4 linked regions of the Homo sapiens genome follow. The protein of the gene in region 3 interacts with the protein of the main gene of each other region in a biochemical or structural test. Each region holds a gene or a part of one and is shown on either strand. Other genes may lie near its edges.

The links.
Region 1: the proteins of ETS2 (region 3) and POU5F1 form a complex in vitro, tested with the Homo sapiens proteins (one study listed by BioGRID).
Region 2: the proteins of ETS2 (region 3) and ZMYND11 form a complex in vitro, tested with the Homo sapiens proteins (2 studies listed by BioGRID).
Region 4: the proteins of ETS2 (region 3) and CDK10 form a complex in vitro, tested with the Homo sapiens proteins (one study listed by BioGRID).

What each region holds. Positions count from the first base shown.
Region 1 is NC_000006.12:31,167,676-31,174,762, forward strand, and holds the start of POU5F1 (POU domain, class 5, transcription factor 1), read right to left. Parts: upstream 3,008-7,087; 5' UTR 2,946-3,007; coding exon 2,541-2,945; intron 1-2,540. UniProt on the Homo sapiens protein: Transcription factor that binds to the octamer motif (5'-ATTTGCAT-3'). Forms a trimeric complex with SOX2 or SOX15 on DNA and controls the expression of a number of genes involved in embryonic development such as YES1, FGF4, UTF1 and ZFP206.
Region 2 is NC_000010.11:131,021-138,457, forward strand, and holds the start of ZMYND11 (zinc finger MYND domain-containing protein 11), read left to right. Parts: upstream 1-4,434; 5' UTR 4,435-4,539; intron 4,540-4,577; exon of another isoform or gene 4,578-4,652; intron 4,653-4,788; exon of another isoform or gene 4,789-5,397; intron 5,398-7,437. UniProt on the Homo sapiens protein: Chromatin reader that specifically recognizes and binds histone H3.3 trimethylated at 'Lys-36' (H3.3K36me3) and regulates RNA polymerase II elongation. Does not bind other histone H3 subtypes (H3.1 or H3.2).
Region 3 is NC_000021.9:38,801,414-38,808,928, reverse strand, and holds the start of ETS2 (protein C-ets-2), read right to left. Parts: upstream 3,001-7,515; 5' UTR 2,959-3,000; coding exon of another isoform or gene 2,809-2,958; exon of another isoform or gene 2,121-2,808; intron 1,493-2,120; exon of another isoform or gene 1-1,492. UniProt on the Homo sapiens protein: Transcription factor activating transcription. Binds specifically the DNA GGAA/T core motif (Ets-binding site or EBS) in gene promoters and stimulates transcription.
Region 4 is NC_000016.10:89,682,095-89,689,703, forward strand, and holds the start of CDK10 (cyclin-dependent kinase 10), read left to right. Parts: upstream 1-4,594; 5' UTR 4,595-4,616; coding exon 4,617-4,703; exon of another isoform or gene 4,704-5,240; intron 5,241-5,395; exon of another isoform or gene 5,396-5,454; intron 5,455-5,541; exon of another isoform or gene 5,542-5,721; intron 5,722-7,157; coding exon 7,158-7,230; intron 7,231-7,609. UniProt on the Homo sapiens protein: Cyclin-dependent kinase that phosphorylates the transcription factor ETS2 (in vitro) and positively controls its proteasomal degradation (in cells).

The sequences.
Region 1 (7,087 bases), on a different chromosome or scaffold from region 3:
CCAGCCTGAGGGACAGAGTGAGACTCCATCTCAAAAATTAAAAAAAAAATAAAGCAGTCTATAGGAGTAGGGTAAAGGAGGGAAGGAGATTATGGAGGAGGGTGACACTTTTAAAGACAGAGAAGGTGATTGTTTGAGCAAAGGACAAGAGTCTAATGTGGCAAGGCCCTGAAGTGGGCCTTCCAGAGCCCAAAGCTGGTCTGGTGGCTAGGTAGATCCTGTTGCAGACATAGTGACTTTGTTTTAGTCCAAGCGAAATGATCTCTCACCCTTTTTCTCCCCACCAAGACGGAATCTCGTTCTATCGCCCAGGCTGGAGTGCTGTGGCGTGATCTTGGCTCACTGCAATCTCCGCCTTCTGGGTTCAAGCTATTCTGCCTCAGCCGCCTGAGTAGCTGGGACTACAGGCACCCACCACCATGCCCGGCTAATTTTTGTATTTTTAGTAGATATGGGGTTTCACCATGTTGGCCAGGCTGGTCAGGAGACCTCAAGTGATCTGTCCACCTTGGCCTCCCAAAGTGCTGGGATTACAGGTGTGAACCACCGCACCTAGCCTCACCTTTTTTTTTTTTTTTTTTGAGAGTTTCGCTTTTGTTGCCTAGGCTGGAGTGCACTGGCGCGATCTCGGCTCACCGCAACCTCCATCTCCCAGGTTCAAGCGATTCTCCTGCCTCAGCTTCCTGAGTAGCTGAGATTACAGGCATGCGTCACCACGCCCAGCTAATTTTGTATTTTTAGTAGAGATGGGGTTTCGCCATGTTGGTCAGGCTGGACTCGAACTCCCGACCTCAGGTGATTCGCCTGCCTCGGCCTCCCAAAGTGCCTGGCCACACCTTTTAAAACACTGACTCTAGTTGACGTGTTGGCCACAGACAGTAGGGAGGAAGCAGTATAATTTGAGAAGCTACTGCGGTAATCCCAGCAGAGATGATGGTGGCTGAGGCCAGGGTTAGGTTGTGATTGATTCAGGATGTTTCTTAAGGATAGGATGTAGGACATGAAAGAAACTGAGGATGACTGGGTTTGGCCTTGAGCAACTGGGTGATCAGGGTGGAGCAGTTCAGGGAGCCATCACAAGAGACAGAAAACGCGGTAGTCATCTGGTGTCTAAATGGCATTTAAGCCTTGAGGGTGGGTGAGAGGAAGGAAGGGTAGATAGAGCAGAGGTTGAAGGACTGAGCCCTGGGGCATGCCATATGAGGCTGCCGGCAGACAGAGGTGCACAGCTAGTGAGAAAAAAACAAGGCCTTTTTGTAGTTCTGAAGCCTCAAGGAAGTGTTTCAATGGTGCTTGATCATATCAATTTCAAATAGGCTGTTTTCATCCCCAACTTCTGCTCAGCCAATAACTCAAACTGATAAATGCCCTCTGCTATCTTGGATTTTCCAAATTCTGTTTTGGGGTTTTGGAATAAACACTGGTCCAAATCCTCGCTTCATCATTTAGCAGTTAAAACCCGTTAAATAGGATAATAATACCTCCCCCTAGGAGATTTTGTGCTGGTTAATGAGATAATGATGTATAAACGGAGCACACAGCCAGGCACTTAGGAAGTGGACCACAATTGCCAGCCATTATCATTCAAGGCTCAGCAGTGACCTCCTGCGAAGAGGTTGGGGCTTCTCGGTCACTCCAGAAACCAGTCACACCTTTCTGTGAGGTCTCAAGGCTTAGTATTTAATCTCTAATTGCTTACACTTGTCGCCTTGAAGGACTGGAAGATACATCTTTAATAGTCCTCAGCAGGGCTGGATGCCTTCAATCCCGCAGCAGCTCTATATTTGCAAATGGCCTGGAGAAATCTCTCACCATTTTTCTTGTTTACAACTTTGGAACTGAGGCTGAAGTCAATCAAAATCCAGCTTTCTACAAGGGGTGCCAGGGTGTGCACCTTAACACAGTGGCCAGTCATTGGCCTGAGGCAGAGATCCGGGGAAGACAAGCCCTATACTTGACTGGAGGTAAACCCAGCTCACAACGCGCACACACACAGCCCAAACAGGAGATCCTATCAGAAACGAGTCACACCCTAGACTTTCAGGAACAATAATCCTGGAATGAGCACTGTTTTTACCCTCAGGCTATGCTTAACCCTAAGGCCAAAATCTTGGGTCTGATAAGGGTCAAATTTTCAAGCAGGACTAAGGGTGGGAAAAGGGGCTCAAACCAACCCCAAGCTGGGTCTGGTGCTGGGCCAGTAATGAGTGACCAGACCCTGGGCAGGCCTAGGAGATGTGAGAGACCCTGACAAGGGCTGGGCCAGAGCAAAGGCCAGCCTGGGCCAGCTTCCGACTCTCCCAGGCTGCTCTGCCCTCACCGGCAGTTGTCTCTTCGAAATCCAGCTTCCACTTCCCACCTGGCCCCTGCCTGCCAGGGCTGCCAGCAGTTGATACACACCCCTCCCTGGCCAGGGCAGCTGACCCTGCCTGCTCCTCTCCTGGGTGCCAGGTCTGGGCAGCTGCAGGTGACCACTTCCCCATCAGGCTGCCCTGTCATGACCACCTCCCCACACCCCAACCCCGTCGAAGCTCACTTGCCTCCTCCGGGTTTTGCTCCAGCTTCTCCTTCTCCAGCTTCACGGCACCAGGGGTGACGGTGCAGGGCTCCGGGGAGGCCCCATCGGAGTTGCTCTCCACCCCGACTCCTGCTTCGCCCTCAGGCTGAGAGGTCTCCAAGCCGCCTTGGGGCACTAGCCCCACTCCAACCTGGGGCCCACAGTACGCCATCCCCCCACAGAACTCATACGGCGGGGGGCATGGGGGAATCCCCCACACCTCAGAGCCTGGCCCAACCCCCGGCCCGATTCCTGGCCCTCCAGGAGGGCCTTGGAAGCTTAGCCAGGTCCGAGGATCAACCCAGCCCGGCTCCGGCCCCCCTGGCCCATCACCTCCACCACCTGGAGGGGGCGAGAAGGCGAAATCCGAAGCCAGGTGTCCCGCCATGGGGAAGGAAGGCGCCCCAAGCCGGGGGCCTGGTGAAATGAGGGCTTGCGAAGGGACTACTCAACCCCTCTCTCCCTCCCCAGTCCCACCCACTAGCCTTGACCTCTGGCCCCGCCCCCTGGATGGGTGGAGGAGAGGGAGGTGGGGGGAGAAACTGAGGCGAAGGATGTTTGCCTAATGGTGGTGGCAATGGTGTCTGTGGAAGGGGAAAACCGGGAGACACAACTGGCGCCCCTCCAGGACCTCAGTGCAGGTCCCCCACAGAAACTTTTTTTATTTTTATTTTTTAAGACAGGGTCTCACTTTGTTGCCCAGACTGGAGTGCAGTGGAGTACAATGATGGCTCAATGTAGCCTCGATCTACTGGGCCAAAGCAATCCTTCTGCTCCAGCCTCCTAAGTGGCTGGGACTACAGGCTTGGACCACTGTGCCCTGTTAGTTTTTTTATTTTTAGTAGAGATGGGGCCTTGCTATGTTACCCAGGCTGGTCTTGAATTCCTGTCCTCAAGAAATCCTCCCGCCTCTGCCGCCCAGTGTCATGATTAAAGGCGTGAGCCACCACACCCAACTTTCAACTCCCAACCCGCTCCCTGGCACTCTCTCAGGCTCTGCACATCCCAGCTGTCTGGAATCACTCCCACACCTCCATGTTCTTCAGGAACCCAGGTGCTTGACCCCCTCTCCACAGACCTCTGGCACTGTGCCTTCAGGGGCCAGTCACCCTCTCAGCTCCTCAAATTTATTGAATGTGTGTGTGGCGCTATCCCTCAATGCATCAACAGCCATAAGCACAATGGCCAGCTGCTCCCTTATGCCTTCCCCCGATCCATCCAGAATCCTAGGCATTCCCATCCCGATACTGGCCAAATCCAGCCACCCCGCAGCCTGGGTGCCTGGCACCATCTGCCCAGCCTGCCAAATTTCACCCCATCTTCAAGAGTAGACTGCCAGACAAGGCCTCCGTGCTATATCCCCCCACCCCCCCATCCCCCCACCCCTCCGTCTTCCAGAATCAGACTCCAGACTCTCCTCATCTAACAGACTAAGGGGTTGGTCCCTACTTCCCCTTCAAGGGACCAGACTTTGGACTGACTGGGCCTCAGTTTCCCAACCTTTGCTGAAACAGAGTGATAAGACACCCGCTTTGGGCCCCCTCCACTATGGAACCTGCACATCAGGTTCCTTGCTCCCCTCTCAACCAAAACTCAGACATCTAATACCACGGTAGGCCCCGTTCTCCCTCCCCCACCTCCCTGGCCCAGGCCTCCAGCCCTAGGCCCTGGGTGGGGAAAACCAGGGGGTGGGGGGTGTGGAGAAAAAATATCTGACTTCAGGTTCAAAGAAGCCTGGGAGGGACTGGGGGAAGGGGGCAGGACAATGGCCTTGGCTGGACAATCCCGGTCCCCAGAGGGGGCAGCTCTAACCCTAAACAAGTGCTCAACCCTTGAATGGGCCTGGATGGCTCCCCTGGGGACTGCTTCCTGCTCCCCAACCCCCCAGTCCCAATCCCCTCACACAGAATCCCCTTCAGAGACGCTAAAAGGAGCTCCAGCAACCCCCCTCTGCAATCCCCTCAAAGACTGAGCCTCAGACGGGCACCAAGGGCCCCCCACAGGGACCTAGGTATCTAGTTCCTCCTTCCTCTGGGGGACTCAGGCGTCCAGCTTCATCGTGCGTCCCTCCCCGAGCCTGGCAGATTGAGGGATGTGCTTTGTTTAGTGGGGCTGGCTGGCAGAAAGACGCAGAGGAGGTGGAGAGTGATTTGTGGAGGCGTGCAGGAAGGCTGCCCTAAGCTCCCCTTCAGGGTCTGTTTTTCTGGGCCTGGCCTGAGTATCCTGAGGCTCATGCTGCTGGTCTAGTGCTTGATTCTGTTTGCAAGAGAATAGCCAACGGAATGCCTGTCTGTGAGGGATGATGTTTGTCTGTCTGCTCCCAAAACTTGATCTCAGTGGAGGGCCTGGGGTAAGTCTGGGGGCTCCAGAGGGGGCTCTGGGCCAGGGCTCCCCACAGCTTCGAAGGCCAGAAGGCCAGGTCTGGACTGGGCACGCTGACCTCTGTCGACTTAAGTAAGGCTTCTCATTGCAGGCTCCAGGCTCAGCCCTGCCTGGGCTTGTCTGCTGGGGTCAGTGGCTCTATCTGCCTTCTAAGGGGATGGGTGTCCCGTGGCCAGCTGTCTTCATCTTGGTGGCATCCGTGAGTCTTTTGAGACTTTTCCCCCACTCTTATGTTGCCTCTGTTCGTGTGCCCATCTCCTGTCTGTGTAGACTTTTTGAGCCTAATTGTATGCGTGCATTTCAATACCTGCCACAGGTCTGCCGGAAGGTCTACAAGGCAGTGGGGTTGCAGCTGTGTTCACTTCTCGGCCTTTAACTGCCCAAAAGGCAGGTAGATTATGGGGCCTGGTGGGGGTGGGAGGAACATGCTTCGGAACAGGAGGAGGCCCCTCCCCAGCCATCTCAATCCCCAGGACAGAACCATCACGGCACCTTTGTCATGCATCTCTCTGCTGTCTGCCAAGAAGACGGCCTCTCAGAGGAGGGGGAGGGGCAGGCCTGGGATTTGGCTGGAATCTCCACACCAGTGTTTCTCAGCTTGCCATCCTCCAGGTTCCCCAAAAGCGCTCTTCCCAAGCCAGTCCAGAGAGTCCCTGCTGCCCATTTTCCTAGTGGCTCCTAAAACACCTTCCCCAATTTCCCCACTCAACACCACCCTCTTGTTTTTAGATTATAATTTGTACTGTAGGTGGTGTATTTCTGGCCTGGGCAAGAGGCCCATTCCCGAGAGGGACGCAGACAAGGGGTGGGTGCCTGGATCCCTGGCTGCCTTGTGGCTGGATATGAGCCCAGTCAGGGGTCAGCCTCCTGCATGCCTAGACTCCTAGCCGGCCCCCTTCTGGGGTGCTCAGGGCTGATGGGAGGTTGAGGCAGGCTTTCCTTCCTTCTCACTGTCCTGTTATGCCTGAAGGGTAGGTGGCTTCACTTCAGCCAAGGCCAGCTCTCCCAGGCCCCAACCAGTGCTGGGGGCCACCGTTGGGCCTGGAGGAGACTGGAAGCCAGGCTGAGTCATCAGAACTGGTCCCATGATTCCCTGGGTTTTAGAAAGTCACCATAAAAAGATACTTCACACACACCTTTATTATTACAGTGCAATGTCAAGACCCTTCACAGAGCACTGCCAGGGGACCCAGGTGAGGCCCACCTCTCCCCACCAGGTGAGGCGGCTGGCATGGCTGGGTGGGGAGAGGTGAGATGAGCAGCCTTGCTGCTCTCAGCCCAGCCTTCCCTTCCCCTCACTGGGAGATGAGGTGCTGTTTGGTTGAAAAACCAGCTGAAAAAACTCAGTTGGGACCAATAGAGACTTGCTCTCGACCCGGTCTAGGAAACCACTTATTTTGACTTCCGAGGCCTGTCAATCTGAAGGCAAAAGAAAGGGAAGAAACGGAGGGCTGAGGGTTCAGGCTTGGCCCACCTTGGGAGATGATCTCCCTTAATAGCAATTTAGACAAATTCCTTTGCTCACTGTGGACCAAGTCCCCTCTTCTCAACAAAGGACCCTCTGATCTCCCCCATGAGCCCTGCAAACTGAGGTCACCTTATCCCAAATCCAGACACTCTTACCTCAAATAGAGGAGTCAACTCTCTAGCTGTAGCCTGTAGGGAGTCAGAGGTGAGAGCAAAAGGAGTGGGTGAGCTGGGAGGATTGGTCAGGAACAAACTAGGAGGCATGGACCAGGTTCTAAGTCCTGGCTCTGACTCCCTGGCTAATGGCACCTCCCCCTCCTGTGCCTCAGTTTCCTCACCTAGTAAAGAGGATTTGGACTCAATGAACTCTAAACTTCCTTCCAACTCAGACATAAAATTGCTGCCCCGCTCTCATATGCCCTCCCATCTACCCACCCCCCTTACTTGACATGGGAATGTAGACTTCTCTGCACACCTGTGAAGAGAAATGGGGGTAGGAAAGCTGGGAGTGGTGTTCAATGAGAAGTTGGCATAGGCCTCCCTGTACCCTGCCACCTACCTCCAAGCATCCTTCCTGGGGAATCTGGCAGGTTTTCCCCTGAAGTTTGATCAAGAGATATAGGAGGAGGCCGGGAGCGGTGGCTCATGCCTATAATCCCAGCACTTTAGGAGGCTGAGGCG
Region 2 (7,437 bases), on a different chromosome or scaffold from region 3:
GTGGGAGGATCGCTTGAGCCCAGGAGTGGATGTTACAGTGAGCCAAGATGGTGCCACTGCACTCCAGCCTGGGTGACAGAGTGAGCCCTATCTCAAAAAAAGGAAAACAGGGACCAGGGAGACAGGGAAAAGGTTAGAATCACAATTTTGAAGGAAAGAAGGCACACACATACACAAACATCTGTTTTTCATCTTGTGTGATGAGTTGCCCTTGAAAAGACAGGATCCTACTTTTCCTTAAATGTTTTGAAGCATATTAACCTGAGTATGGGAGGACCTACTTCTAACAAATACTGTACATTCATGGACAGAAGTGGGGAACTGAATTTCAGAAGCCACAGCTATGGAGCCCTGAAGAGATGCCCGGAGCCTGGGTTTCAAGGCCCACAGGCACTGGAACTAGGCCTGGCAAGCACTGTCAGCTCAGCTCCTCGGTTGCTGTGTAGTAAAAAGCTGCCACTTAAGTATTGGAAGAATCATGGCTTTCAATGGAAATGGATTTCTTATACTGACAGTTTCTCCTGGAGAACGTCTTGCTCTGTTGTCCAGGCTGGAGTGCAGGGATGCAATCATAGCTCACTGCAGCCCTGACCTCTTGTGCTCAAGCCATCCTCCTCCCTCAGCTTCTCGAGTAGCTGCGACTACAGGAGTGAGCCACCACATCTGGCTATTTTTTTTTTTTAATTTTGTAGAGATGCGTCCTCGTTATGTTGCCCAGGCTGTTCTCGAACTCCTGGCCCCAAGTGTACCTCCCGCCTTGGCCTCCCAAAGTGTTGGGGTTATAGATGTGAGCCACTATTCCTGGCTGAAAGTTTTTTAAAATTAAAATATGGATAGTAGCAGTTTCAGTCTGAGCCACAGAGGGTGGCAGCATCAATGAATGGTAACTGCTGTTACAGAGTTCGGACCACAGCTTTCTAGTTTCAAAAACATGATTTTTAAAAGCATCCACAGGTGACTGGAAATCCTTAAGCAACATTAATAAACTTGTTATATAGTAACTTATATGCCAGAATGTTAATCTAATAGAGGAGAAGATAAGGAGAAACCACAACCATATTCAAAACATCAATATCTAATACTAAAGACTACGGAAAACTGTTATCAGAAGTCAGAAAGGCATGGAATGAAATCAAAGAACATTGTATAGTCTTAGAAAATATTTCATTGGGGCAACCCGTTCGGGTCCCCTTCCACGCTGTGGAAGCTTTGTTCTTTCGCTCTTCACAATAAATCTTGCTGCTGCTCAAAAAAAATATGTAATATAATATATATATTTTATATATATATATTTTATTGGTCTCTGAGAAAGTCTCCCTTTGCAGTACGAACTAACCTTGTGGAGTGGCTAGATCATGACTGCTCACTTCAGCATCTGTCTCTTACTGAATGTTTCTTATCCTCTTGCTTTCTTGGGGGTCTGAGGATGGGGGGCTGTAGCATGTGTAAGAGATGACACTCACTAGACACACATTTTTGAGGGCTGCCCCGCAGCAGGAAGCGGCTCTGGAGGCCATGGGCCAATGAAGGTGCTGTGACGTTTACACTCACAGCCATCTGCAGCAGTCCACACTTTATTACAGTTACAGTTAACATTTTCTTCCACAGTATTTCCTGATAATATTTAACAAAATAAATAATGAGACTAAACCCTAACTCATGTCAAATGAGTTTGAGCAATTATTACCTTACACACACTATACTGTCCCAATAGCCAGGTAATGAAATCTGATCTGGACACTCATTCTAGAAAATAGAGCAGTGCTGTCTGATTGGGGGCGGGAGGAGTATTCCCACGTCTTGGTCCTGCAGAGACAGCTCCCCGACAGCTCTGAGAAGCCCCAGGGCTCAGTGGCACCCGCTTTGAAACTCACCAATGCAAAAAGGAGAATCAAGAAGTAAAAATCTGTCTGTATTCAATTGTATAAACAGTATAGCTTTGTCATGTAAGATACTAGCACAGCAATTAGTTACTGGTCTTCTGGGCTTCCTCCAAACCTCAAACCTTTGGTCCCCAGACCCACACACACACATTCATTCAGCTGAGGGGCAAATGAGATAAATCAAACTGTTTTAATGGCCTCTTGGTATGCATTTCAAGAGAGTTGACATCAACCCAATTTTCTGCCAGCAGTGTATATAAGCGTTCATTTCGCTAACCATCAGTAGCATTATCACTGGAAAAGAATTCTGTCCTTTGAAGAAAAGCAATGTTACGTTGTTTGAATGTGTCATTACTAGTGAATTAGAATAGCTGTCAGTATTTATTAATAGTTTTATTTCTTCTATTGTACATTATCCATGGCTTTTGCGTTTTATGTGGGGAGGGATATTCGTATTCATCTTAGTGGATAAATACCACCTTACTTGGAAAATAGAGCCAAGGGTTAAATTCTAGGCAAAACCAACAGGAAAATCAGGGTAAGTTATCTAACTTACATTAGGTTGAATGAGAGATGGTATCTGCGTATAAAATTTTAAATGATCCCTACAAAGTATAACTGGGAAAAAAATGTGGAGTTATGCTGCCACTTCTTTCCTAAAAGGTAAGCTTCCTTTTATTGATACGATGTTGTCTTACTCGAGTGCCTTCTCTAAAATACACAGAACCATGCAGTCCTCTATTTTACAGATGAAGTAACAGACTGTTTAAAAAGGTGACTCACTGAAAGCTCTTCATTGTTGGAATTCCTGGCCCAACATTCAAACCAGGCATGGCTTGCTTTTCTTCTGACACGTTTTAACCCCTCTACTAAATTTTTAGCGATATATATTTACTCTTAAAATGAATTACAATTATTCTGTGATGTTCTTTGAGATAATCAAAAACTCTCTGGGATGTATCAGATTGAGGGCTGTGAATAGCATGAAAGATTGTGTTTATTTGACTAGTGTATATCACAGACCTATTCAAGTACCACCCATTTCTAAATTCTAACAGTCTTAGAAACCAGCTGTAGAAGCAGATTGATATATTTTATCAGAATCCCCAAATTCCTACAACCGTCTCTTCCTAATGACTTTTCAGGTGGGGACACGTGCCAAGACGGCCAATAGATACCTGAAACCCGGGGTAGTGCTGAACCTTACTTACACTACGTTTTCTCCTATACACACCTGCCTATAATAAAGTTTAATTTAGAAGTCAGGCACAATGAGAGATTAACAACACTAATAATAAACCAGAACAATTATAACACTATACTGTAGTAAAAGTTATGAGAATGCGGTCTCCCTGAAAACACCTTGCTGTCCTGTACTCACCGAATTTCAGAGCAGAGGACTCTGACTGACAGGTGTTCCCCGACTCCCAGTGGCGAAAGGTCCTCAGGGAAAACAGGTGAACGCTATCAAAGTATGCTTATCTCCGAACCTTTCTTAAACCAGAGTCTTAAGGGATCGTCTCTGATTAGGTCTAGAATTCCTCTCCATAGAAGATAACCTACTTCTCGCGCAAATCTGCAGTGTTCTTGCAGGGCTGCTGATGGGTGGTCCTGTTCTTTTCGCGGTCCTGTTTGCGCAGAGATGAAACGGGGAACTTAGCGTATCCCTACCGCTCTTTTTGATGACAGGAGTAAAGGGCTGTTCAGACTACCTAAACAATGTTGTTAAGAGAAGCACTCGTACTTCTCAGACTTCGCTGTTCCGGACCCCGCGAGCCAGGGGCAGGCACCGGGTCCACCCGGGGCTGAGCTGCGGCGGCGCCTGACAATGCCCCCTCGCGCCCCGGCCTCGGCGCCCGCTCCCGGCTCCAGCGCGCCTGCACGTACGTAGCCTTCACGTGTGTGTGGATACGGAGTGCATGTGTGGAGACAGAGGAATATGCTCCAACAAATTTCGGATAGAGGCGCCGAAGACAGGACGTGGGGAAGGTAGGAGCCGCGTGCACGGCTCCGGCCCCGGGCGGGAGGCGGCCGCGAGCCGGGCCGGCCGCGCGCAAGTCCGGCGCCAGCCGCTAGAGCCCCCAGTGCGCGGCCCGGCCGCGGGGCGCCTCGACCCGACACAATAAACTCCGAGGGCGGGCGGGCCGAGGGGCCGGTGGGGCCGAGCGGCCGCCCCGCGCGCATCGCCATGTGAGCGGCTGCCGCGGCTTCGCGGGGACCCAACTTTCCCGGGCGGCGGCGCCCAACTTCCCGCCGCCCGCTCCGGCCCCGCAGGCCCGCGGCGCCAGGGGAAGACGCGAGTAAGTGCGGGCGGCGGTGCCCTCCCGGCCCTCACCCCGCACGCGGCGACCCGGCCGCCTAGCCTCCCTCGCTCAGGCGCGACCGCGGCGTTCTCTGAGGTGGAGTATTACAAACATGGCGCCCCTCGAGCCCGGAGCCCTTCGCGCGGAGCCGGCGGCGGGGTCCGGGCGGGGGGGAGCCGGGGAGGAGGGAGGAGGCCGGCAGGGAGGAGGAGGAGGCGGCCTGAGCGTCCCCCCCGCCCCCCGCGCCCGTCGCCGGCTCAGGCCCGAGAGGCGCCGGGCGGCGGGAAGGAGGCGGCACCGGAGGGGAGGGCCGGGCGCGGCGGCGGCGGCGGTGGAGGAGCCGGAGCATAATGGTGGGGAAAGCTCGGCGGCGGGGCGGCGGGGCGGGCGGGGGCGTCCGTGGAGATGGCGCGGCCCGCGCGGTGGAGCCTGCCTGGCCGCGGCCTCTGGGGCGGCGGCGGCACCAGTGGGTGCTGACGGTCGCTCGCCCGCTCGCGAAGAGCTCCGAGCTGCCGGGGAGCTTTGTGGATGGCGGGGCGGGCCGGGCCGGCGGGGCCTGCGAGGGCGGCGGCGGGGCCTGCGGAGGCTGCCGGCCCGCGCCCACTCGCCTTGGGCGGCCGCGGAAGAGGCCCCGGGATGAGGCCCCGGAGGACCGCGCGGGGCCTGCTCGGGCCGGGAAGCCGCGGAGTCGCGTGAGCACCGCCCGCCGGGCCCTGTGCCCCGCTTTCGGTCAGGCCTCCTGGGCCCGTGCGCAGTCCGGGCCGGCGGGGAACGCGGCTCCGGGCGTGTGGCGGGCGGAGAGGAAGCGTTTGTCGGCGCGGCACGTCGTGTGCTAGCCCGGGAGCGGCGGGCAGGGCTGGCCCCGAGGCCCGGGGCGGAGATTCGTCGGTCCCCCGGGGCTGTGAGCGACCCCGGCAGCGAGGCCGCCGCCTCAACAGGTCCTCGCGGACCTCCGGGACAGTCCTGTGGGGTCCGCCGCCCTCCTCCCACCCAGAGCTCCGGGGAGAAGCTGCTGAGGACGCGGCTGGGACGAGGGGGGGCGCCGGGACCCGGACTTTCACTTGCAGTCTCTCCTCGCGCTTTTCTCCCGAGCCGGGAGGAGGAGGAGCTGGCGATGTGTGCGCCGTGCCCGGTGTCTTTTGCAGAGTGACCGCCGTACCTGTTTTATTCGTGTGTACCAGTGCTCGTTGTGCAGTGCGGTGTCCTATGCGGTGGGTACGCAGTACCGGGGATTATATATGGTGTGTACTCTGTGTCATATGCAGTGTGCTCGAAGTACCCGGTGTCGTACCGGCTATCATACACGGTGTGTACATGTATCTTCCTCGCTTAGGCTGTGCACTCAGCCCCCGGTATTGTGTGCAGTAGGTGCCTGGTACCCTGCTGCCATATGAGCTGTGCGTGTGGTACTCCATGTTATATACGAGTGTATGTAGTATCTGGATAGTATTGAATATATTTACCTTACCTGTTGTCACATACAGTGTGTATGTAGTACCTGGTGTCATATATGCGGTGTGTATAGTACCAGGTGTCATATACTGTGTGCACACAGTACTTGGGGTCATATATGGTGTGTACATAGTATCCTTTCACACTGTGTATGCAGCACCCAGTGTCATATACAGCCCTTACGCGGTTCCCGGTATTTTGTGCAGTATGTGCACGGTACCGTGCTGCCATATGCGGTGTGTATGCAGTATTCAATGTCATATACGTTAGGTATATAGTATCTGGTGTCATATACAGTGTATATACACTACCTGGTGTTATCTATGTTTTGTATATATATCTGGTGGCATGTACAGTATGTATACATTACATAGTGTTATATATGGTGTGTAGGTAGTACCCAATGTCATATGCCATGCATATATGGTACCCAATGTCATATGCACCATGCATGCACTATCCTTGTCACATAAGCTGTACTCAGTGTCAGATGCAGTGTGTACCTAGTACCGAGTGTCATATGTACTGTGTACACAGTACCCACTGTCATATTCAGGGTATCTAGTACCCTGGGTCATATACAGTGTGTACATGGTATCTGGTGTCAAGAATGTGAGCCTGGAGGAGATACCCAGGTGGCCCATTCAGGACCCTGCTGGTAGGAGGGAGTGGTGCAGGTTGGGTTTTTAGGGAGGTCTAGAGCCCTTGGTCCTCCTCACTTAGGTGTTCTGCATCCCACAGTAAGCTGAGTCATATGGAGGCAAGAACATTCTTAAAAATAATTTAATCTGTTTGTCCAAAAGCAGAAAGTAAATGTTTACTTGTTTTCCTGTAAACTGAGAAATATAGTAATTTTAGCTTAGTAATTATGGTGTGCACAACGTTTTCAGATTTTTGAGGTTGATTTTAATTAATGGTTGGATGTTATCAGGGAGATAGTGTTGGTTGTACTTTGAAAGTTGAAAAGTTAGAGTGCTTTCTGGTAGGCAGGGTCATCTTTGTAGTTTTTCTGAATGTCTTTTTACAAGCAGGAGAAAAAATATGAATGTCTGTAGAGGCATTTAATTTGCCTTGTCTTTGACTAACTGGCACAGGTTACATTATAGTTGTTATTTTTGGTTGACTCATCTTTATAAGATGACCAGGCTAGAGAATCAGAGATCAGAGGATATGGGATGTGATTATGACAGAATCAAAATATTTGTCTTGCTTGACTCTGTTACTTAAAGGATTTCTGTATTTCACATGGTGCTTTTCCCCCATAGAGATTGCTCATATGAAAACCAACTCTTCCTTTTACAGTCTCTAAATTGGACAATTTATTTTTGCAATTACCATTTGTGAGGTGTTTAAATAAATGTACATGTACGAGCTTCCAGCTTCACAAAAAGAAATCAATTAAAATGTTAAAATTTAGTTCTTTCATTCATACTGAATACCATTCTGTTGGCGTTTTTTTTTTTTTTTTTGAGATGGAGTCTTGCTCTGTCGCTCAGGCTGGAGTGCAGTGGTGTGATCTCGGCTTACTGCAACCCCTGCCTCCCAGGCTTAAGCGATTCTCATGCCTCAGCCTCCCGGGTAGCTCGTACTACAGGCATGTGCCACCACACCTGGATAATTTTTTGTATTTTTAGTAGGGGGCCGGGGTGGGGGTGGTTTGCCATGTTGGCCAGGTCTCAGACTCCTGGCCTCAAATGATCCACCTGCCTTGGCCTCCCAAAGTGCTGAGATTACAGATGTGAGCCACCGCACCCGGCCCTGTTGGCGTTTTGAATGGATGTCATGCATGTTTCAATGAA
Region 3 (7,515 bases):
AGCACCGATGAATGGCCTTCACCTCTAGGGTGATTCCTTGCCCTCCCAGGTTCATGGCTATGGAACTGAAGGCTGGTGGCAAAGCTCTAAGCCTAGCTCCATGGCCTCCACTGGGTGCTCTTACCTGTTTACAACTGAGAACTTTTTAAGTAATTCAGACAACATTCAACTGATAGAACTTACTGGATGTGGCGAAATAACAAAGGCTCACCGAACTATTTAATTTGCATTTATTTTCTTGTTTTCTCTTTATGATCAACATTATGGCTAAACCAGACCTTCCAAGAACCCTGCTACCCAACACACACCCAACACACACACACACACACACACACACATACACACACACCCCTCTTGGCTAAAAGGCAGCAGGTGAGGCCAGAGGCATCAGAAAATTCTGTTAAAACACTCGGAGTGCAGGTAATGATCATGGTAGCCAACAAAGGCTGGTCAGCACTGGCAATAAATAATAGTCCTATGAGAGGACAGAGAGGGGCAGCAGTCTTGGGTCCAAAGTGGCCACATTCACTCAGAATCTCCACTTGGTGGATTATGCCACTTATATTCACTCAACAATCAATAGTCTCTCCTATTGATGGCTGCCATTGCCAGAATGCCTAGTTACTAAGAGCTAAGCCCCGTGCTGGGGGACCATCCACTCCTACCTAATTGAATCTTCCTGCATCCCTGAGAGGCAGACGTCATACAGTGAAGCAACGGAGGCCCAGCAACATGGACAATCTGCCCAGGATCCACATAGCTACCAGAGGGGCCACCGCAGGGCAAAGTGGAGATCAAACCCCAGTTGAGTATGGTCCTAAATCCTGAGTCCTCCACACAGTCCTCTGTGCCGGGAGAACATGAATGATGAGGAATGGACCCTTCCCACCCATCCTGATATTATCAGATCAGGCCCTTCTCACTACTCCTTCCAATGTGAAATGCTCCTTCCTCTAGAGCTTTATGTCATTTCTCTGCATGAAATAAGTCCTGGTAGCTGCTGATTAAAGAAATAAACAAGCCTCAAACAGAAGGCCAAAATCATAGACATCTTGGGTGTTGCCAGTTATCCATCCAGAGCCGGATGGGTCAGCTCTTTTTCTTCCTTAGGCTTGCAGACTGCTTGCTGACTTGATTCTGTTTTTCAGCTTCTCTGAGATGGACAGAGAATGAATGTGGAAGGCAGTGGAAAAGCTCTCCCCAGCTTTTGTGTACAAATACCAGGAGAAAAGGCAGCCTACCACTCCCACATAAAGAGCTGTAATTACTAGCTACAGAATAGAATTCTTTTGTTGTCCAGCTTTTAATGAGTTTTGTAAAAACCATGCAGAATTAAAGTGCTCTACTAAATGGTTTCAGGCAGACACACAACTAATCAAATTTAAGCTTGCTTATTTTACTCAACAGGGCTTGTTAGATGGCAGACAAGCCAAGTTTTTCCACATAAATCAATTTCAAGTTTGGTGTTGCTGATGGATCGCTGCTTTTAAACCAAAAAAAAAAAAAAAAAAGGATAAAGAGCAGAAATGTAACAGCTGAGAATGGTTACATTTAAAAACAAGGAGAATTTGCCTGACAACAGTACCCTTATTGGAACAAGTAATCACTTATGTAAGATTATTTAGATAAATTTGAAAACAAACAAAAAAAAGAAACAACACAACCTTGTAACACACATTTGAAGGTAGTTTGCTTTTTTCGCTTTGAAAGCGATCAGTTTAGAGAGATGAATGACTAATCCCAGAAATGAGTATCTGAGCATTTCCCTGCGGATGGTCGGTGCTAACATTTACTGTGCTGCGCTACTACTCAGAATTTTAATAAAGCTTAACGTGGAGATTTATCTCTCTGATTGGTGGTGGTGTGGGCAGGCAGATAACGCACAGGCGCTTCCATTGTATGGAACAAATATAATCTCTTACTGGCGAATTAAAATAAATTACTCCTGTCTCCAAAGGGGACTGCTCATTTCTTTACTTTCTAAATAACTAGCGCGTCAACTACTGTTTTAGGCTACCCTGAAATTGTGTACAGGCTAACATAAAAGGTCTCCTGCCGTAAAAAATAAAATAGGATAACACACACGCAACCCAAACACACACAAGCAAACACTCAGTTACCTCTTCATTCAAATGCTGTAGGAACGAGAAAATAAAGGCAGCCCAGCGCAACCAGATCTCATTTCCGACAGGTTCCCCACGCTCTCCTCGCACGACCGAGGGGTCCCCAGCCCGGGCCCTGGACGCGGCGAGCAGGTGACCATGGCACCCCGCGCCCCGCAGGTTCCCGCGGTGCCGCAGCCTTCAGGTGTCTTGGGCGCCCCAGATCCTCCGGGCCCGGCGCCGCTCCAGGAAGTCACCCTCAAAGCCGGGGCGCCAGGCCACCTCGGACACGCTCTCCTGTGCCCCCACTCCCGTTCGCGAAATCATGTTCGCCGGGACATCCACTGGGCAGGACCCCCTACCAGGCCTGCGTTTCCTTTTAAAAACAAAAGCGAGCGAAACAAGCCAGCGCGCCCTGGCCGCGCCCGCCGCTAGGCGACCCCGAAGACAGCGGCCCTAGCACGCAGGAACCCCCCGGCCGACCCCGCCAGCCCCGGAGGCCACTCCATAACCGGAAAACGAGCCGGCGCGGAACTCAGACGCGCGCCCCTAGAGTCCTCGCAGCAGCCGCCACCCCCACCTGCACCCCCGGCAGCGCCCCGAGATCTGCGTGTCAGTGCCCCCCGCGACCCCCGCCCAGGCCCCGGGTGACCCTCCATGGGACTGGAGCCGCGCGCCGGGCGCTCTCTGCGGGCCCAGCTCTTACCCTGCCGCTGCGGGCAGGGCCGGCGCTTGGTCGGGACGGTGGCTGCTCGGCGCCCGCGGCTGCTCGGTGCGCGCCGGGCGAGGGCGAGGGCGCCGGCCAGAGACGATCAGGGAGGCCGGACGCTGGCCGGGCGGCTCCGGGAGCTCTGAGCTGGAGCGACACCGCACTCGTCAGTCTCTGGAGGAAGTAACCGGGCCGTCCCCCACGCGGCGCGCTCTTCAGGAGCGGGAGGAGGAGGGAGGAGGGAGGAGGAAGGAGGGACGGCCGAGTGGAGGGGAGGGGAGGAAACGAGGGAGGAGAGAAGAGAGAGGGGAGGGAAGGGGAGGAGAGAGAAGAGGAGGGGAAGGGAGGTAGGCAGGATGGGGAGAAGCGGGAGGAGAGGGAAGGGGGCAGCAGGAGGGTTGGGGGAGCGGAGGGAGAGGAGAGGGAACGCACGAGGGGAGAGAAGAGGAGGGCGGAGGCGGCGAGGGAGCGCGGGGCGGGGCTGACACCTTCCGGCCCAACCTTCCCTCCGCCTCCTGCTGTCACTCGGCTGGGTCCCTCGCCGGCTGGCCCTGAGGCCCCGGGAGCAGGGCCTCGGCCCCACGTGCGCGCGAGTGTGCGCCCTGGGAGCCGGGCGGAGACTTTCCGTGGAGCGCTCGGCGTCCTCTCTGGGGCCAAGGCCCTAACGCCAAACCTGCCTTTGGAATTCCGCAGCGACGGAGCAGTGGTGCTGGTGGCACCGAAGGGCAGCCGGGCTTGGGTAATAAGGCCCTGAAATTGAGCCGACCCCATTCTTGAACCTCTGAATGGGCTTAGGACTAATGATCATTCTATCACAAAAAGGCTCCAAATGAGGCGCTTCCTGTAGAAACCGGGCCCTGGCTGTGTCCCCGAGTCGTGGTGCTGATCGCGCTGCTCCCGGGAAGCCCCGATCCCGCAGGCTCCGCGGGAGTGGCGCCCTCTGGAGCTGAGCGGTGCCCAGATAGCGACCCGCCTTGGCCGCGCTTCAATCTGGGCTGGGCACTCCACGCACATCATCGTCACTCTCGGAGGACTTGCGGCTCCCACTTTACACAGGTGGGAACTGAACCTTAGGATGAATAACCTGCCACGTCAGATTGATGAGAAATTCAAGGTGGAAACCTGAGTTTATCTGACTCCGAAACCCTGGTCAAAACCACCCCCTACACTGTGGTTTCCGTTTTTATCAGAAGGTGCTTGAGTCCATGGCTGTTTGGACTCAGGTCACATGCTCAATATTTTGCAGGAAAGTTTAGATTCCTGAAGTTGTGGATGAAATAGGAAACCCCAGCTTAGGCGAGGCCACGGGGCTGAAAGCTGCTCACATCTCAAGAACTGCGGCACCACCGGGAAGGGAGAGGAATGGCCCAGCTTCTCTGTGACTCAGGGTTCTAGGTTTCCATGGTGACTCTAGGTCTAGAGTTATCCGGATAATTGAGATATCGGTGCACCTTAATGTTTCTGGGTCCCCGAAGGTCTCCGGGTATCACCGTGGCATGAGTCACAGTCAGAATCTATACGGCTGAAACAATCACGTATAGGGGAAGTGATTATTTCTTGGAGACTGAATTGATTCTGATGGCTTCTCAGTGTATATTCAGGCCCAGATTAGAGAACACAGATAGGTCAAGAAAGAGTTCCATAAATGGAATACAGATCCATAGTAAGTTACCATGGAGACATGAGTATGTTACTATTTTTTTAAAAAACCGTAGCAGAAAATACTGACTCATCTGGGCTGCAGTTTCAGCTAATATAGGGTCTTTCTCCCTCAGGCTACTTGCACAGCCCTGAGAAGCTGGGTATAGACAGCTGCTCCCCAAAGCTCAGCTACTTCCCGAAGCTCACTTGCCCCAAGCAGACTGCCTTGTCCCACCATGCCTGCCCTCGTGTTCATGGGTGCTGAGTGCCAGGTGCTCCAGGGCTCCCTGAGTCGCTGATGGGCTCCCTGAGTGGAGCCATATTTCCTCTTTGCAGGGCTGGCACAGGCTGGGGGCTAGGAGGTGGTGCTTTGCTCATGCTGGGCTGTTTCCAACATATATGAGCAGAAAGATATCAAAAGAGGAGCACAGGAGTTTGAAGACCACCGGTTCCCGACAGTGGAACCTTCCTCTGCTCACTAACCTTGGGCCTCCTCTACAGAATAAGGGATGATTATGGAACCTACGTCCTTAAGACTATGGCAAATGACATAGAACCAAATGTGCAGAATATGTTAGAGTGTTGAGTACATGGTAGAGAAGGACTCAAAATGATCTAGCTATTAAGAATCTTTTTCCAAGCTCTCCTCAGGGAGGATTTTATAGAAAACATTTTGAAAAAACTATCATATACACGAAAAAAAAAAAAAAAGTCCTGCCCCTCGCGGGTTTAAATGTGTGAAAGCCTTGGGAAAGGGATCCCGGCCGGAAGACCAAATGGCAGAGCTAAGACGGCAGGGAGGCTGTGGGAAGAGGAAGCTGGGCCTGTGTGCTGGGGTCATCGTAAGCCTAAGCTCCTGCCTCCCACCCAGGTCCCTGGTCCTCCCTATTTCCCCTTCCAAAGAGTCTGAGGCTGCCCCAAGCAGCCCCCTTGCCCTGGGTCCTGCCCTGTAGCTGATCCACCTCTGCACGAGGGCAGTCACATGTTCATAATAAAATGGCTTATCCTAGTTCTGGGGCAATATCAGGGTTCCTTACATTTTTGTCCTTAATACTAGTTGGCTTGCCAGTTACTCAGCAGAATTAAAAAGCAGTCTGGCTGAAGCCAGTGATTATTCATTGACTGTTATCGTGCGATTCACAGGGAACAATGAGCTTTACAGTAAATTAAACCTAATAAATAAAAGTATAGCCCTTGTGCTTGGAGATCAAAAGTCGAGGGTGTTGGAAGGAAATTAAAAGTCAGAAGGTGCACAGGGTGGAGTGATCAGATGCGCTATGGCAGACTGAGTTATGAGCAATGTTAACACTTTCCCCTTAAGAAAGAGGGACATTCACAGAAGAGAGGAGGAAAAGGGATATTACAGTAGAATATATGTGTTACGAACATGAAATATCTAGAGAGTAAAATGCAGAAAAAGAATTCTTTAGAATCCAGACATAATTATGAGAAATGATTAGCTAGCTTACGAAGTCATCCTTTGAAAAAAAACACACACAAAAACGTCTCCTTAGAAACATGTCTGTATTTACCTTAAAATCCAAATCAGTAGTCAACAGGCAGTTTGTGGTGGTTTCCAGTTGCAAGTTAAACAGACGTCATTTGGTCCGAAGTGCATCATTCATTCACTTAGCAAACACAGAGTCAGATGCTGAGAAGACAAATATGATTAAGGCTTAGTTAGTTCCCGCCCTCAAGAAGTAAAAGTGAAGTGCACAGTTCAGTTAAAATCACATGCACAGTGAGACTTTGGTAAGGAGTGGAGGAAGAAAAGAATGAACCTAGAGATAGAAATCATTTCCTCATGTGTAAGCTGCCGCCTGCATCTGGCCTGCTGGGGTGTCTGGCAGTGGTGGCTATTTCACTGATATATGTTGGGGTCAAGGACTTGATAAGCTTAACCCACACTTCCGCCCACCTCCGAATCCAACCAACCTTGCCCATTTGCAGGCTGGCCCAGCTACCAAGAATCCTAGGCAGATGTGGGGCCGTGGAGCTGCCTCCTGCTCCATCAGGGTGGACCCAGATTATGCAAGAGTTGGCCAGTGTCTAGTCTTTTCTGTGAGATTCCTTGGAATGGCAGATAGGGTATTCTGCTGGTGGTCAAAAACGTTGCTAATGCTCCTTTCTAATTCCTTCTGCTCCTTGTCAGCCTCCTTTGTCCCTTGCACTCCCTGTGGGCATGAAGACATGGTTACCCAGCTAGGGCTACCGTCTTCACCTCTGAAGGGCAGCCTGTGGGCCCAGACTGCCTGGGGTCAAATCCCGCCCAGCCATTCCCTAGCAGGCCACCTGTGGGCCCCTCGGGGCCTCCCTCTGTTAATGTCTCCCAAGCACTTAGAACAGTGTCTGGCGTGTCATTAAGTGTGTGATAAATAAGTAGCAGGTCCCCTGGCCCTGGAAGTCTTGGTCTCCTGCGGGCATCGCTGATCACTGCTGCCCTGCACTGGCACTTTTGGTTGACAACAAGGTATAAAATCAATCCCAGTGCTGTCAATGGGAACCATGGTGTCTTTGACTATGTTTTTCTTGCCTTTGGTGGTCAGAAACGAGAAAATGAAACATTGGATTTTAAAACTGGAAAAAACTTCAGAGAGCTGATGGCTCAGACCAACTCTGGTTTGTAAGATGCAGAAACTGAGACCCAGGGAGGATCAATTCCTTGCCCAGGGTCAAATGCCTATTTCCTGGCAAAGCTGGGGCCACACTCCAGGCCTCCTGCCCCCTCGTCCAGCACACTGCCACCCTGACACAGTCATTTTCCCTTATAAGGCAGTACTCTGGGAGGGTATAAACCGCTTGAAAATCCACCATGATATCAAACTGCACAGTGACGTGCTTTAGGCAAGTCTGAACAACCAAAATAGTAATAGCGACCCGTTGTATTCTGTAAAACTGATAATCCCTAAATAAATGTGTCTGAACTGAGTCAGACGTGTACAGATATATGATTTTATAGTTGTGTGTTTTTGTCTGAATCACAAAATGATTCCAACAGTATGCATGGAACTGAATAATCCTCAGTGCATCGGCTTATGTATTTTGCTAACTAGAAAACTGAAC
Region 4 (7,609 bases), on a different chromosome or scaffold from region 3:
TGAGGAAGATTTGGAACATATTTCTGTTTTCTTTTTTGTTTTTTATATTTTGCTTGGGTAGCATATTTCTTTCTGATTTCTCCAAAAATTGGGAACTATCTGTGAGCACTATTTAAAAAAAAAAAAAAAACTTTTCCCTCTCCCTTCCCCTATTTGTATTCTAATGTCAATATAATGATGTGTGCACGTGCAGTAACAATCTGTTTTCTCTTGTAATAGGACATAGAGACACTGCATATTTTACCAAGGCTTTGACTGGAATGGCATGCTTTCAAATATAAACAGACGGCTTTAAGGAATCAGAGTTGACCTATAGTGCCCATCAAAGCCCTTGGGAAAACTGGCTTCATACTGTATCCACCCAGTGGATTCTTCTTGCCCAGATGGAGCCCATGTATCAAGGTAGGGAAACTGCAATAGAGAAAGGGTTTAATTCACACAGAGACAAGTGAATGGGAGACCAGAATTTGATGATTACTGAAATCAGTCTCCCCAAGAATTTGGGGACTAGGGTGTTCCAAAGGTAGTTTGGGGGAAGGGGTGGGGTAGCTTGGCAGTGGGTGCTTGCTGCTGATGGGTTGTGGGGGCGGGGGGCCATCGTAGGGTGTGAGACAGGATCCTCCCGTGTGCTGAACCGCTTCTGGGTGGGGCTGCAGGAGTAGTTGGCAGGTCCAGGTGGAGCCATCATCAGTCAGTGGGTCCTGTTGGAGCCGTAGGTATCAGACATGCAAAAAACCCTTGCGAGGTACTGCAAAAGGCCAATCTTAGGTTACAATAGCATTGTTATCTGCAGGACCTCTGGAATAATGGCTGATAATTGTTTATGTCTACATCTTAGCCAAATTCAGGCTCCTCTCCTCTCCCTAGCCTGGTGGCCCCTCATTAGTTTTACAAATACAGTTGAGTTTTGGGGAGGGGCTATTATCATGTAAACTATAAACATCTCCCAAAGCTAGCCCAAGAATAACTGAAGGCAGCTTGAAGGCTAAAGGTCAAAGGGGGTTTGGCTACATCAGATCTTCCCCAATTGGCATAATTTTCTCAATGATACAATTTTTGTGGCCGGGCTCGGTGGCTCACGCCTGTAATCCCAGCACTTTGGGAGGCCAAGGCGGGCAGATCACGAAGTCAGGAGATTGCAACCATCCTTGTCAACACAGTGAAACCCCGTCTCTACTAAAAATACACAAAAAATTAGCCGGGCGTGGTGGCGGGCGTCTGTAGTCCCAGCTACTTGGGAGGTTAAGGCAGGAGAATGGCGTGAACCTGGGAGGCGGAGCTTGCAGTGAGCCGAGGTCGCACCACTGCACTCCAGCCTGGGCGACAGAGCAAGACTCCGTCTCAAAAAAAAAAAAAAAAAAAAAAGCCTACATGGTAAATATTTATTCTTGCTACAGTTTATACAAATAACCAGGCCAAGTACAATAAGACTAAAACTTATTTTGAAAACAAATCAGTACTACCTGATTTCACTTTGGTAAAAATAGGAGACTAGAGAGAGAAAAATTATGTTTCAAAATAAACTATAGTATACCTGTTATTAGATTCTAGCCTTGCCTAAGGTTTTTCAACTTTTATTATTTTCTCTTTTTTTGTTTGTTTATTTGTTTTTTCAGACAGGGTCTCACTCTGTCACCCGGGCAGTGGTGTGGTATCAGTTCACTGCAACCTCTGCCTCCTGGGTTCAAGTGATTCTCGTGCCTCAGCCTCCCGAGTAGCTGGGATTATTGGTGTGCACCACTATGGCCAGCTCATTTTTTTGTATTTTTAGTAGAGATGCGTTTCACCATGTTGGCCAGGCTAGTCTCGAACTCCTGACCTCATGATCCACCGGCCTCGGCCTCCCAAAGTGCTGGGATTATAGGCATGAGCCACTGCGCCGGGCCAAAGCCGTGCTTTTCTTAAAGCTCTGCGAACGAAAGCTAGACAACTTAAACCTCAGAAGAGAATAATGGTACCTATTTATATACATAAACCACTTTCACGCCTGCCTGCTGTGTATGGACTTCAGAGGAACACAGCCTACGTCAGTTTTCTAGGATTGTTCTCTCCACGTGCTCTTTGTTTTCTTTCTTTCTTCTTCCCTCTATTTTCCTCCCTCCCTCCCTTCCTTCCTTCCTTTCACAAAGTCTCACTCTGTTACCCAGGCTGGAGTGCAGTGGCACGATTTTGGCTCACTGCAACCTCCGCCTTCCGGGTTCAAGCGATTCTCCTGCCTCAGCCTCCCGAGTACCTGGGACTACAGGCAACCACCACCACACCCAGCTAATTTTGTTAGTTTTAGTAGAGACGGGGTTTCACCATGTTGGCCAGGCTGGTCTCGAACTCCTGACCTCAAGTGATCTGCCTACCTCGGCCTCCCAAAGTGTTGGGATTATAGGCATGAGCCACTGTGCCTGGTCACAACACCTGCATTTTCTTTTTTTTTTGTTTTTTTTTTTGAGACAGAGTCTCACTCTGTCACCCAGGCTGGAGTGTAGTGGTGTGATCTTGGCTCACTGCAAGCTCCGCCCCGTGGGTTCACACCATTCTCCTGCCTCAGCCTCCCGAGTAGCTGCAACTACAGGCACCCGCCACCATGCCTGCCTAATTTTTTGTATTTTTTAGTGGAGATGGGGTTTCACTGTGTTAGCCAGGATGGTCTCTATCTCCTGACCTCGTGATCGACCCGCCTCAGACTCCCAAAGTGCTGGGATTACAGGCATGAGCCACCACGCCTGGCCAACACCCCCATTTTGTATACCACACTCAACTCCCCCATTTTCTACATGCTGATCAAAACCAATCTGAATGGAGTCTAGGTCTGGCTGTGGGCTGTTGGGAAGAGGCCCCCAAATCTGGCCATCAACTGGCCGCAAAACTGGCCATAAACAAAATCTCTGCTGCACTGTGACATGCTCATGATGGCCATGACTCCCACACTGGAATGAGGGCAAGGAACACCTGGCCCACCCAGGGCGGAAAACCGCTTAAAGGAGTTCCTGAACCACAAACAATAGCATGAGCGATCTGTGCCTTAAGGACGTGCTCCTGCTGCAGATAACTAGCCAGACCCATCCCTTTATTTCCCGTAAGAAGTGCTTTTAATCTATAATCTATAGAAACAATGCTTATCACTGGCTTGCTGTCAATAAATATGTGGGTAAATCTCTGTTCGAGGCTTTCAGCTTCGAAGGCTGTGAGACCCCTGATTTCCCACTCCACACCCTATATTTCTGTGTGTGTTTCTTTAATTCCTCTAGCGCCGCTGGGTTAGGGTCTCCACGACCGAGCTGGTCCCGCAGTGGGCAGTGGTTTGGGCCCGACCGAGCTGGTCCCGCAGTGGGCGGTGGTTTGGGCCCGACCGAGCTGGTCCCGCAGTGGGCGGTGGTTTGGGCCCGACCGAGCTGGTCTCGCAGTGGGCGGTGGTTTGGGCCCGACCGAGCTGGTCTCGCAGTGGTTTGGGCCCTGCTTGCTCGACTGGATTTCAACAGTGAAGCCAGATTAGAGGACATGCTGGCTGCCCCGATCCTGGACCTGGACCAATGGTGCTTCCTAAACATTCCATGTCAACTTTTCTTTTTCCACCTTCCAGGGCTGGGCTGTGAAAGAGATTGGAGAGGCAGGTGCCTGTGAGAGAAGCTTCTACCAGCCTGGGAAGTCAGGTCTTCCATGAGTGAGGGGAGGTATCTACTTTGCCAAACCTTGTTAGGGAATGCTGACATAGCTGCCTCTTCCTGCCCAGAAGCTAAGCTTGAATGCCACCCCTCACAGAGCTTCTCTCCTGTCTTTCACTCACTCCTGCTTATTTCTGTGACAGAACTTGACAGCATGGACATTGCCACTTGCTTCCTTCAGTCTCCTGGAGTCCCCATGTCCTGAACACAGAGGAGGCACCCAAATGCTTGCTGAAGCCACATCCCTGGACCAAGTGACCTGACCCTCACCTGGAGGACCTTCACCTTCACCTCTCACCTGGAGGACCCTCTCACCTGGAAGACTCTCTCACCTGGAGGACCACCCCACCTGAAGGACTCCCAACTGGAGGACCCTCTTACCTGGGGGACCCCCTCCGCTGGAGGACCCTCTCACCTGGAGGACCCTCTTACCTGGAGGGCCCTTCACCTGGGGGACTCCCCCACCTAGAGGATCCTCTTACCTGGAGGTCCCCTCACCTGGGGAACCCCCCCCCCACCTAGAGGATCCTCTTACCTGGAGGGCCCTTCACCTGGGGAACCCCCCCCCCCCACCTAGAGGATCCTCTTACCTGGAGGACCCCCCACCGAGAGGACCCTCCCCCCCCACCTGGAGGACCTCCCCACATGAAGGACTCCCACCTGGAGGACCTTCTTACCTGGGGGAACCCGTCTCACCTGGAAGACCTTCACCTGGGTAATCGCCGTGGCCTCCCACTACGGCGCAGCCGGGTCGGCTGCCCGGGCTTCACCCTAAAATAAGGCCCGAACTGCAGCAGTCGGAGCCGATCCCTGGAGCCCAGCGCCTAGGGCGGACCCGCGGGAGCGTCTCTTGGTAACCGTTGCTAAGGAGAGGAAGCCCGGGAAGGAGCTTTCGCGCCTGCGCCGCGGGGCCGTCCGCGTCTGCGCCTGCGCGCAAGAGAGGCGGGGCCAGCGCTCGGCATGGCGGAGCCAGATCTGGAGTGCGAGCAGATCCGTCTGAAGTGTATTCGTAAGGAGGGCTTCTTCACGGTGCCTCCGGAACACAGGGTGCGCGGGGTGCCACCCGGGCAGCTCTGCCCGCCTCGCTAGCGGCACTGCCCGGCTGGGTCTGGGGAGCCTCGTGTCGCGCTGCCGCGCCGAGGCTTCCGGCACGGGCGGGAACGACAGTCCCAGAGTTCCCCGCGGCGGGGGCGGAAGCCGGGGCGGGGCGGGCTCAGGACCCCCGACAGCCGGTCCCTGGAGATCTGAGGGGCCGGGGCGGGCTCAGGGATGCCTCGCGCCCGCGGAGAGACGGGCCCGGGACTTGGGAAGAGCAAGCTCCGGGATCCAGCTCGGGCGCTGCTGGGTTCAGCGCCCGAGCTGGGCTTTGCAGGCTGAGCCGCGAGCCACTTGTTTGTGGGGAGAATTTACACCCGCGACGAGTTCGAGCTTGAAGGCTCCCGCTGGGCTTGGGCTGCATGGAGCGGGGTCCAGCGCTGCCTGGCGGCTTCACGCGAACCCTGGGCGCGTCCCTTGCGGAGGTGCCGGTGCCTCCCTCTGCAGAGACCAGGAGAGAGCCTCTGGGCGTTGGGCGGTGTTGCCCAGGTGCACGGCTGGTGGGGGTGGAGAGCCCTGAACTTTGGCCGCTGGTTTGTGTTTTTAACTGCTGGCTGGTGCTCTGAGAGGCCAAGCCACGTGTTCAGTAAGAATCATTAACAGATCGTGGCTGGATGACAACAGGAGCCACACTTTACTCATCCAGACGTGCAGCAGGCGCTCACCGCGTTGAGAGCCGTGTGCTGGACTCTGGGGTGAAGTAGTGAGTTGGCCTTTTCTTTTTTGTTGTTTTTTTGAGACAGGGTCTAGCGCTCTCGCCCAGGCTGGAATGCAGTGGCGTGATCACGGCTCAGTGCATCGTCAGCCTCCTGGGCTCAAGTGATCTTCCTGCCTCGGCCTCCCAAGTGCTGGAATTACAGGCGTGAGCCACCGCCCCCAGCCTGGCCTGGCATTTCTTTGAGTTCAGGAAGTGTGACAAGGATTTGGACACCCAGAAATAAGCGTGTCGAGAAGAGCACAAGCAGAGGATGTGAGAAGGGGAATTAAGGCGGGAAAGGGAGTTTGAGACTAGGCCATCAGTGAGTGACAGGCCAGATGCTTCTGACTCGGTCCCCAGGTGTCAGGAAGGAATCAGACTGAGGACAAATGCGGCCAGTGGCTCACACCTGTAATCTCAGCAATCTGGGAGGCTGAGGTGGGAGGATTGCTTGAGCCCAGGTTTGATACTGAGGGTTAAGAGAAGGGAAGCCGGGAAATGGGGGCTGTGAGGTTTCAAACCTTGCTACGTGTGCTTTTTTTTTTTTTTTTTTTTTTGAGACGGAGTCTCATTCTGTCACCCAGGCTGGAGTGCAGTGGCGCAGTCTCGGCTCACTGCAAGCTCCACCTCCTGGGTTCACGCCATCCTCCTGCCTCAGCCTCCCAAGCAGCTGGGACTACAGGCGCCCGCCACCACGCCCAGCTAATTTTTTCATATTTTTAGTAGAGACGGAGTTTCACCGTGTTAGTCAGGGTGCTCTAGATCTCCTGACTTCGTGATCCACCCACCTCAGCCTCCTAAAGTGCTGGGATTACAGGCGTGAGCCACTGCGCCCGGCTTACATGTGCTTCTTAGATCCATGGAGAAGGATACAGACTCTACTAGTTCAGAGACCCCAAAATACAGGGCCTCAAGATGATGCCTTTTTTCACTCTCCCCTAACATTCTGGAGAGAAGCAGTTGTTTTGCACAGGTGGGTCAGGCATTCTGGTTCCATTTTTTCTTCCCGTCACTGAGGTGAGAAGAGGTGAAAGCTTCCTTTCACCTGGAAGTCACACGGTCCCTTCAGCTCACATTCCAAGGCCAGATGCCACTGGGTAGCGTTTCATAACTTCCAGGAGGTAGTGATACAGGGATGCTGGGACAGCAGCCTCTGCCACAGATGTATTTTTGTATGTGGGATTGAAAGGGAGTATCTGAGTGGCCGCCTCTGATATTTCTTTCAAAGCATTGGCCCAGTATCGTCACCACCTTTTCTCATCAGAAAAGCCCAAGAGGCCGGGTACGGTGGCTCACGCTTGTAATCCCAGCACTTTGGGAGGCCAAGGCGGGCAGATCACTTGAGGTCAGGAGCTCAAGACCAGCCTGGCCAACATGGTGAAACCCAGTCTCTACTAAAAATAGAAAATTAGGCGGTTGTGGTGGCACCTGCCTGTAATCCCAGCTACTCAGGAGGCTGAGGCCGGAGAATCACTTGAACCCAGGAGGCGGAGGTTGCAGTGAACCATGTTCTTGCCACTGCACTCCAGCCTGGGCAACAGAGCGAGACTCAGTCTCAAAAAAAGAAAAAAAAAGCCCAAACGTGTGGTTGCCTTTCTGTTTGGTGAGCAAGACGTGAGTGGGCTCCCTGGTACAAATTCCATTTGAAATTTCCTCAGTTGTTCCATCAGCTGCCAAATTTCCACACTGGCAACACCCTTCTGTTTCAGCTGGGACGATGCCGGAGTGTGAAGGAGTTTGAGAAGCTGAACCGCATTGGAGAGGGTACCTACGGCATTGTGTGTGAGTGGCCAAGGCTAGGACATGTGGCCGCAGCTCGTGGCTGTGACAGTGTGGGACGAGACTGTCGAAGCAGCAGCCGCGTTGGGGCTGGAAGGGACTCAGACCCTGTGCTCTGAAACAGGGCAGAAACCTGTTCAGGAACTTCAATTCCTGATGTAGTTATCACAAACATTGTACCATTTCTGGGTAAACGTAAGCATCCGGTTGCTAATGCCCATAATCCAAACGTGTCACTGCAGAGTACACAGAACTGTTAGAGAAATAAAATACAGAACTTTCCAGAAGCAGCAGGAGCTGGACATGGTGCTCATGTCTATCACCTCAGCAACTCTGGAGGAGTCACCTGAGCCCAGGTGTTTTTTCTTTTTGTTTGTTTTTG